Linked DNA regions of Homo sapiens. The protein of the gene in region 1 purifies or fractionates together with the protein of each later gene. This does not show direct contact. Each region holds a gene or a part of one and is shown on either strand. Other genes may lie near its edges. The genes, in order: GUSB and CPOX.

Region 1 (3,812 bases):
CCCTGGCTTCAGCAGGAGCCCAAGACAGGTGGATGGGCAGGCATGGTCCTCTGAGCTTTCTGATGTTTCTCACCCTTGGTGGGAGGCCCATTTTCTTTTTTTTTTTTTTTTTTGAGATGGTCTCACTCTGTCACCCAGGCTGGAGTGCAATGGCCTGATCACAGCTCACTGCAGCCTTGAACTCTCAGCCTGCAGCAGTCCTCCTGCCTTGGCCTCCTGAGTAGCTGGGACTACAGGCACATGCCACCATGTCTGGCTAAATAAAAAAAATTTTGTAGCCTGGGCAGAGTGACTCATGCCTGTAATCTCAGCATTTTGGGAGGCTGAGGTGGGTGGATCACTTGAGGCCAAGAGTTCAAGACCAGCCTGGCCAACATGGTGAAACCCCATCTCTACTAAAAATATGAAAATTTGCTGGGCATGGTGGCGAACACCTGTAATTCCAGCCACTCGGGAGGCTGAGGCAGGAGAATTGCTTGAACTCAGGAGGCAGAGGCTGCAGTGAGCTGAGATCACACCACTGCACTCCAGCCTGGGGGACAGACTGAGACTGTCTCAGAAGAAAAACATTTTTTTTTTATAGAGATGGGGTCTCAGTCTGTCAGCAGGCTGGTCTTCAACTCCTGGACTCAAGTGATCCTCCTGCCTTAGCCTCCCAAAGTGTGGGAACTCCAGGCATGAGCCACCTTGTCTTGTCAAAGGGAAGGCCATGTTTTGAAGGGCAGGTTCCCAGGGTCAGCCAGGGTAGGGCAGAACCTCTGATTGCTGCATCTCTGCTTACAGGCCCAGAGGCAGCTGCTGGGGTGCACGAGGGGCCTTCCTGCTGGAGGGCAGGCCGGATGGGGCTCAGGCTGTCGGGGTGCTCACACCTGGTGCTTTGGCTGTCATAGGTGCAGCTGACTGCACAGACGTCACTGGGGCCTGTGTCTGACTTCTACACACTCCCTGTGGGGATCCGCACTGTGGCTGTCACCAAGAGCCAGTTCCTCATCAATGGGAAACCTTTCTATTTCCACGGTGTCAACAAGCATGAGGATGCGGACGTGTGTTGGGGCTCCTGGGTCCTTGTCGGGGCTGCTTCTGGTCACCCTCCACTTTCGCCTTCCCTGTGTCCTGCAGTTGAGGGCAGCTCAGGGCAATGAGGCAAATGGCTCCAAATGGAGAGGGGGCTCATGGGGTGGCTCTCCAGGGTCCTGGCTCTCAGAGGAAGTGCAGCTTCGACAGGGACAGGGGTCACTTGGCTCTGCTATCTCCTAGATCCGAGGGAAGGGCTTCGACTGGCCGCTGCTGGTGAAGGACTTCAACCTGCTTCGCTGGCTTGGTGCCAACGCTTTCCGTACCAGCCACTACCCCTATGCAGAGGAAGTGATGCAGATGTGTGACCGCTATGGGATTGTGGTCATCGATGAGTGTCCCGGCGTGGGCCTGGCGCTGCCGTGAGTCTCTGCTGTGCACCTGCTCCGCCTGCCCAGCCCGGGGGCGTCACCGTGACCCTCTGTCCCTTCCCTCCTGGCCCGCAGGCAGTTCTTCAACAACGTTTCTCTGCATCACCACATGCAGGTGATGGAAGAAGTGGTGCGTAGGGACAAGAACCACCCCGCGGTCGTGATGTGGTCTGTGGCCAACGAGCCTGCGTCCCACCTAGAATCTGCTGGCTACTACTTGAAGTGAGTGCTCCCTCCCTGCCCTCGGCTAGAGTGGGAAGGAGACCCTGGCAGGTGGCTGGCCTCGGTGGGCATGTGCTGTTCAAGATCGGCCTCGTGTCCAGCCCAATGGGAAGGCCGTCCATACCCAGATAGTTCAGGGGACCAAATATCTACCCACCCAAATTGTGGTTTTCTTTTTTGTTCTTTTTTTTTCTTTTTGAGATGGAGTCTCACTATATGGCCCAGGCTGGAGTGCAGTGGGGTGATCTCCGCTCATTACAACCTCTGCCTCCTGGGTTCAAGTGATTCTCCTGCCTCAGTCTCCTGAGTAGCTAGGATTACAGGCACCCATGAACCACTGTGCTGGGGCTGTTTTTTTTTTTCAAAATGGGTTCTCACTCTGGTTGCCCAGGTTGGAGTGCAGCGGTGCAGTTTTGGCTTACTGCAGCCTTGACTTCCCAGGCTCAGGTGATCCTCCTGTCTCAGCCTCCCAAGTAGCTGGGATTCTAGATGTGTGTCATCACGCCCAGCTAATTTTTGCTTTATTTTTTATTTTTTGGATATGCAGTCTCCCTCTATTGCCCAGGATGGAGTGCAGGGGCATGATCTCAGCTCACTGCAACCTCTGCCGCTCAGGTTCAAGTGATTCTCCAGCCTCAGCCTCCCGAGTAGCTGGGATTACAGGCACATGCCACCACGCCCAGCTAAGTTTTCCTTTTTTCCTTTTTATGAGATGGAGTCTCACTCCGTGGCCAGGCTGGAGTGCAGTGGCGCAATCTCGTCTCACTGCAACCTTCACCTTCCAGGTTCAAGTGATTCTCCTGCCTCAGCCTCCTGAGGAGTTGGGATTACAGGCACACGCCAACATACCCTGCTAATTTTTGTATTTTTAGCAGAGACGGGGTTTCACCATTTTGGCTAGGATGGTCTCGATCTCTTGAACTCATGATCCGCCTGCCTCGGCCTCCTGAAGTGCTCGGATTACAGGCGTGAGCTACCACGCCTGGCCAACTTTTGCATTTTTCAGTAGAGACGGGGTTTCACTATGTTGGGCCAGGCTGGTCTTGGACTACTGACCTCAGGAGATCCACTTACCTCGGCCTCCCAGAGTGCTGGGATTACAGGCGTGAGCCACCGTGCCCGGCTAATTAGAGACTGGGTTTCACCATGTTTGCCAGGCTGGCGTGGAACTCCTGGCCTCTAGTGATCCTCCTGCCTCACCTTCCCAAAGTGCTGGGATTACAGGTGTGAACCACCACACCTGGCCCCCTTTTCTTCCTTACAATCGTGCAGTTCTAACTCAGCGTTCAGAGTTGGATTTTTCACTTGGGGTAGAAGCAGGAGAGGTGGTAGAAATGCCTCTTGACTCATACAGCACACCCCAATTTCATGCAGTGCTTTGGGCTGAGCCAAGTCTGCAGCAGGCAGAAGGCTCTGAGAAGTTGTTGCAGCCTGGGCCAAGGACAATTCAGAGCTTGGGGGCACAGGGGTGTGCTCAGCAGGACTGGGTGGACAGGCCCTTTGTTGCGAAGGGGAAGAGTACAGGCTTCCAGGAGCAGGTGTTTGAGGCTTCTTTGGGAGGTGGCCAGAGGAGATGCCTGTTTTCTGGGGCAGGATTTGGAGGGAGCCACCCAGGCTGGAGAGGTTCAGCCAGGCTGTCACAGGCTTTGAAGTTTCCCATCTGAGAGCCTGGCTGTTGGAGAGTGTGGGTTTGGAACTTGAGGCTAGGGGGTTCTTTTCTGATCTGTGCCAGCCACAGCCTTCGGATAGGCAGAGCAATGATGGGGGAGGGCGTAAAAGAAGAAATGAACTGAGGAAAGAGAAGAGGAAAACAGGCTTCAACAACAGTCTAGGCTGGGTGCGGTGGCTCACGCCTGTAATCCCAGCACTTTGGGAGGCCAAGGTGGGTGGATCACCTGAGGTCAGGAGTTTGAGACCGGCGTGGCCAACAGATATTGAAACCCTGTCTCTACTAAAAATAAAACAATTAGCGGAACACAGAGGTGGGCGTCTGTAATCCCAGCTACTTGGGAGGCTGAGGCAGGAGAATTGCTTGAGCCCAGGAGGTGGAGGTTGCAGTGAGCCAAGATCATGTCATTGCACTCCAGCCTGGGCTACAGAGTGAGATTCTGTCTCTCAAAAAAACAAAAACAAAAACAGTCTGTA
Region 2 (3,812 bases), on another chromosome or scaffold:
ATATAAAGAAGGCCAACAAGTCACGATTAAGGTGAATTCTACCTATGCGTCAGTTCTAGGGATTTGCATCTGTTGTTTTTTGTTGTTGTTGTTTAAGCAATTGAAGCTGTATTTAAGGTAACCTTTTAAATAGCTTTTAGTTTTTGTTTGAGCATGTTTTTCTATTTAAGGACCCTTATGCAGAGATTATCAAAAGAACTACTTTTAGGATATAAACTATTTTACAAGTTTAACAGTTAGGAAATGGCTTCTTTTTTGTTTGTTTGTTTGTTTGTTTGTTTGTTTTTTGAGATGGAGTCTCACTCTGTCGCCCAGGCTGGAGTGCAGTGGTGCGATCTCGGCTCACTGCAAGCTCTGCCTTCCGGGTTCACGCCATTCTCCTGCCTCAGCCTCCCGAGTAGCTGGGACTACAGGTGCCCACCACCACGCCTGGCTAATTTTTTGTATTTTTAGTGGAGACGGGGTTTCACCGTGTTAGCCAGGATGGTCTCGATCTCCTGACCTCGTGATCCGCCTGCCTCGGCCTCCCAAAGTGCTGGGATTACAGGCGTCAGCCACCGCGTCCGGCCCAGGAAATGGCTTCTTAGGAAACCTGTTCTAGTAGTCATAGAGGGGAAAAGACTCAAGAACAGATTAATAGTTTTATGTGCTGCCTCACAGGGTAAACTTTCATATGTCTGATATGACATATGAAATAATAAAAGATATCATCTGAACCTTTTTTTCCACCAACTTTTCCCTGTCTTTCATGCTATAGAACCATCAAATTTTATTTCTGAAAGAGACCTGAGAGATTGTTTATAGTACCTTCCTTTGGTGAATAAAGAACTCACTCAAGAGAGCTTGGATTTGCACCATGGTTGGTGTCATTGTTAGTGGAAGATTCCTGTCCTCCTGCCTCCTACAAAAGCAGCAGTGCTTCCGAAGGCAGCAGCTTATTCCAAGAAATACACTATCGATATTGGACTGTTTCTCTTTTCACTAAAGTTCTTAGAGTTTCACATCCTTTACAGAGACTTGTGTGAAATTGCCTGTTCGCCTTGAAAATAAGAGGATAAGCAGCCAGGCATGGTGGCTCACGCCTGTAATCCCAGCACTTTGGGAGGCCGAGGCAGGCAGATCACGAGGTCAGGAGATCGAGACCACCCTGGTTAACACAGTGAAACCCCGTCTCTACTATAAATACAAAAAATTAGCCAGGTATGGTGGTGGGCACCTGTAGTCCCAGCTACTTGGGACGCTGAGGCAGGAGAATGGCGTGAACCCGGGAGGCGGAGCTTGCAGTGATTCAAGATCGCACCACTGCACTCCAGCGTGGGGGACAGAGCAAGAGTCCGTCTCAAAAAAAAAAAGAAAAGAAAAGAAAAAGAGGATAAGCATTTTCTACCTTGGTGATATCTGCAAAAAATCTATCTGTCTAAAGTCCTCATTTCATTTTCATAGTTGGACAGCAAGTAAGGACACCATCCTGACATTAGTTGAGGATAGTGCTGTAACCTGAAAGGCTCACATTGATTTTCATGTCTGTTTTTTTCCATTTGATCCCTGGTTTGGCGCCGCTGTGTTTTCCAGGTGTGATGATTACTTCTTTATAGCCCATCGTGGAGAACGGCGGGGCATTGGTGGTATCTTTTTTGATGATCTTGACTCTCCGTCCAAGGAGGAGGTGTTTCGCTTTGTACAGAGCTGTGCCAGGGCTGTAGTTCCTTCTTACATTCCCCTTGTGAAAAAGCACTGTGATGACTCATTCACCCCCCAGGAGAAGCTGTGGCAGCAGCTCAGAAGAGGACGGTAAGTGACTGGAAAACGAATTCTTTCATGGCTAAGTGGGGGAGGTGGAGCAGCTCTTAATAATAGCGGGTGTTGTGTTGTCAGATACTTTGTAATAGTTGTGTTAATTTCTTTTCATAGATGAATATTAAGTGAATTAAAAGACATTGTGTAAAGTAATATTATAATTATAGCAAAGTTTATTTAATTCATCTATACATTAGAGACTCATAGTAGGCATGTAGTAAGTACTTCCTGAATTTAATTCTGCTGATTTCTCTTAGTCTTCTTGTAATACCCTCCAGCCTTATGTCAAGATGTAGACTTCATTTAATGTCTTTGCTGCTTTGTAAATTTGGAATCACACCTTTTTTCATTCATCTTAAAGATTTCACGGAAGTTATTTTAATGGAAATAATTTCAGAAATTTTGCTGGCCTCTACATTAGGCATTTTGTATCTGATGTTTTTCAACAAACCTGTAAGATAGGTGTAATCATCTTTTTTCAGAAAGTTAAGTCTGTTGCCCAAGAGACACAGCTGGTAAATTTAAGATCTCAGATGTGGAACTGGGTCAAAATGACCTCAAAACTTATAGTCTGTGTAGTGCCTAAAGTTAAGCAGCTGAAGCAGGTTTGTGCTTCTTACCATGATACTCACTTTAACCACCCTGTTCTGTGCAGTGAGCCTGGTGAGCTCAGTGGGGTGTCCAGTCTGAGGCTGTCTCCAGCCACGGTGTACTTGTAAATCCACTCCAAGTTATACAGCCTGCTGGCCCCAATCAGTTTCTCATTGCCACCTTAAATGCCTGTATACTACTGAAACATGGCTATAAAATGGATTTTCTCATTGACGTTAATTCTGTGTTAGGCAAAAGAAGCTTTGGGTACTAAAGAGGTAAAGCTTTTGCCTTAAAGAGGTCAACTTAAATAATGTTTCCAGTCTAAAGATAAACATTTGTGTATATCCTTTCTTATGACTGCCTGTGCTATCTGGTTCCCATTTATTAACTTGAAAAACATGAGAGTAAATTTTTAGAAATTTCTTAAAGAATGCATGTATTTTGGAACATGTTTTTTGTTTGCTTCCATAATTTCTTAAATATACCTTTACCACTCTTTCCTCCTTTCACTTGATACTTATTTTGGGGCCCCTGTGATGAGGCACTATCTTGGCTACCCGGTGGCTGTAACATGGACCTGCCAAAAAGAACCTCATAGTTTAGTGGGGAAGACATACCCAAGAGGACAATTTAGAACTCTGTGCAAAGTAAAGTATTCTAGTTTTGCACAAGATTTCGAAGGCAAAACTTGGCAGATTTTGTCAATACTAATTAGGTGAATCCTTTAAAACTTCATAGACAGGAGTAATGGTTTGTTTTGCGGTTTTGTTTTGTTTTTTATACATCGTTTGATGGCAGATCATTCTGAAAGTCGTTGTTGTGTATCATTGCATGTCTGGTGTCATGAGATAGGCAGAACTGTGGGGTAGTAGATTAATTTTCTATGGTATGGTGTGTGACTGTTCTTCAAAGACAGCTTCTTTCTGCCTCCCTTATCTCTGGTCCTTAAGATGGCAATAAACTCTGGGGCCTAAGATAACTCCAGTTCTTCTCTGGGGCTATCAACACTGTCTTTGGTTTCTAATACTGCAGTCATGACCAGTTTTCTGTATCCTTTTCACTTACTGTTACCCACTTTGCCTCGTCTTCACCCTGTCCAAACACCGGTCTCCCTTTCAGCAGTCAGTCTCATTCCCTTTTGACTTTACAGTCTCTTATTTGGCAATCTCATCCAGTTTCTTGCCCACAGTTACTGCTATCCTCCCCCAGACCTTGAACATCAGTCTTACAGTTATCCTTTTCATAGGAAAACAGAAATTAAAGACTTTTAACTTACTTGTTCGTTGTATTCTGGGAAAGGGAAACAGGATAAAATTTAGGCATTAGTTAAATTGAAGGGATTGGTTAAAGTCCCTAACTTATAGGCACCCCAGAGAGGACAGATGTATGGAAAGGATCAGAAAAGATTAAATAATATTATT

Evidence for each region.
Region 2: the proteins of GUSB (region 1) and CPOX fractionate together in Homo sapiens (co-fractionation; one large-scale study listed by BioGRID). This does not show direct contact.

Annotation. Positions count from the first base shown.
Region 1 is NC_000007.14:65,972,150-65,975,961, reverse strand, and holds part of GUSB (beta-glucuronidase isoform 1 precursor), read left to right. Parts: intron 1-890; coding exon 891-1,043; intron 1,044-1,257; coding exon 1,258-1,436; intron 1,437-1,520; coding exon 1,521-1,667; intron 1,668-3,812. UniProt on the Homo sapiens protein: Plays an important role in the degradation of dermatan and keratan sulfates.
Region 2 is NC_000003.12:98,583,420-98,587,231, reverse strand, and holds part of CPOX (oxygen-dependent coproporphyrinogen-III oxidase, mitochondrial precursor), read left to right. Parts: intron 1-1,013; coding exon of another isoform or gene 1,014-1,014; exon of another isoform or gene 1,015-1,566; intron 1,567-1,572; coding exon 1,573-1,791; intron 1,792-3,812. UniProt on the Homo sapiens protein: Catalyzes the aerobic oxidative decarboxylation of propionate groups of rings A and B of coproporphyrinogen-III to yield the vinyl groups in protoporphyrinogen-IX and participates to the sixth step in the heme biosynthetic pathway.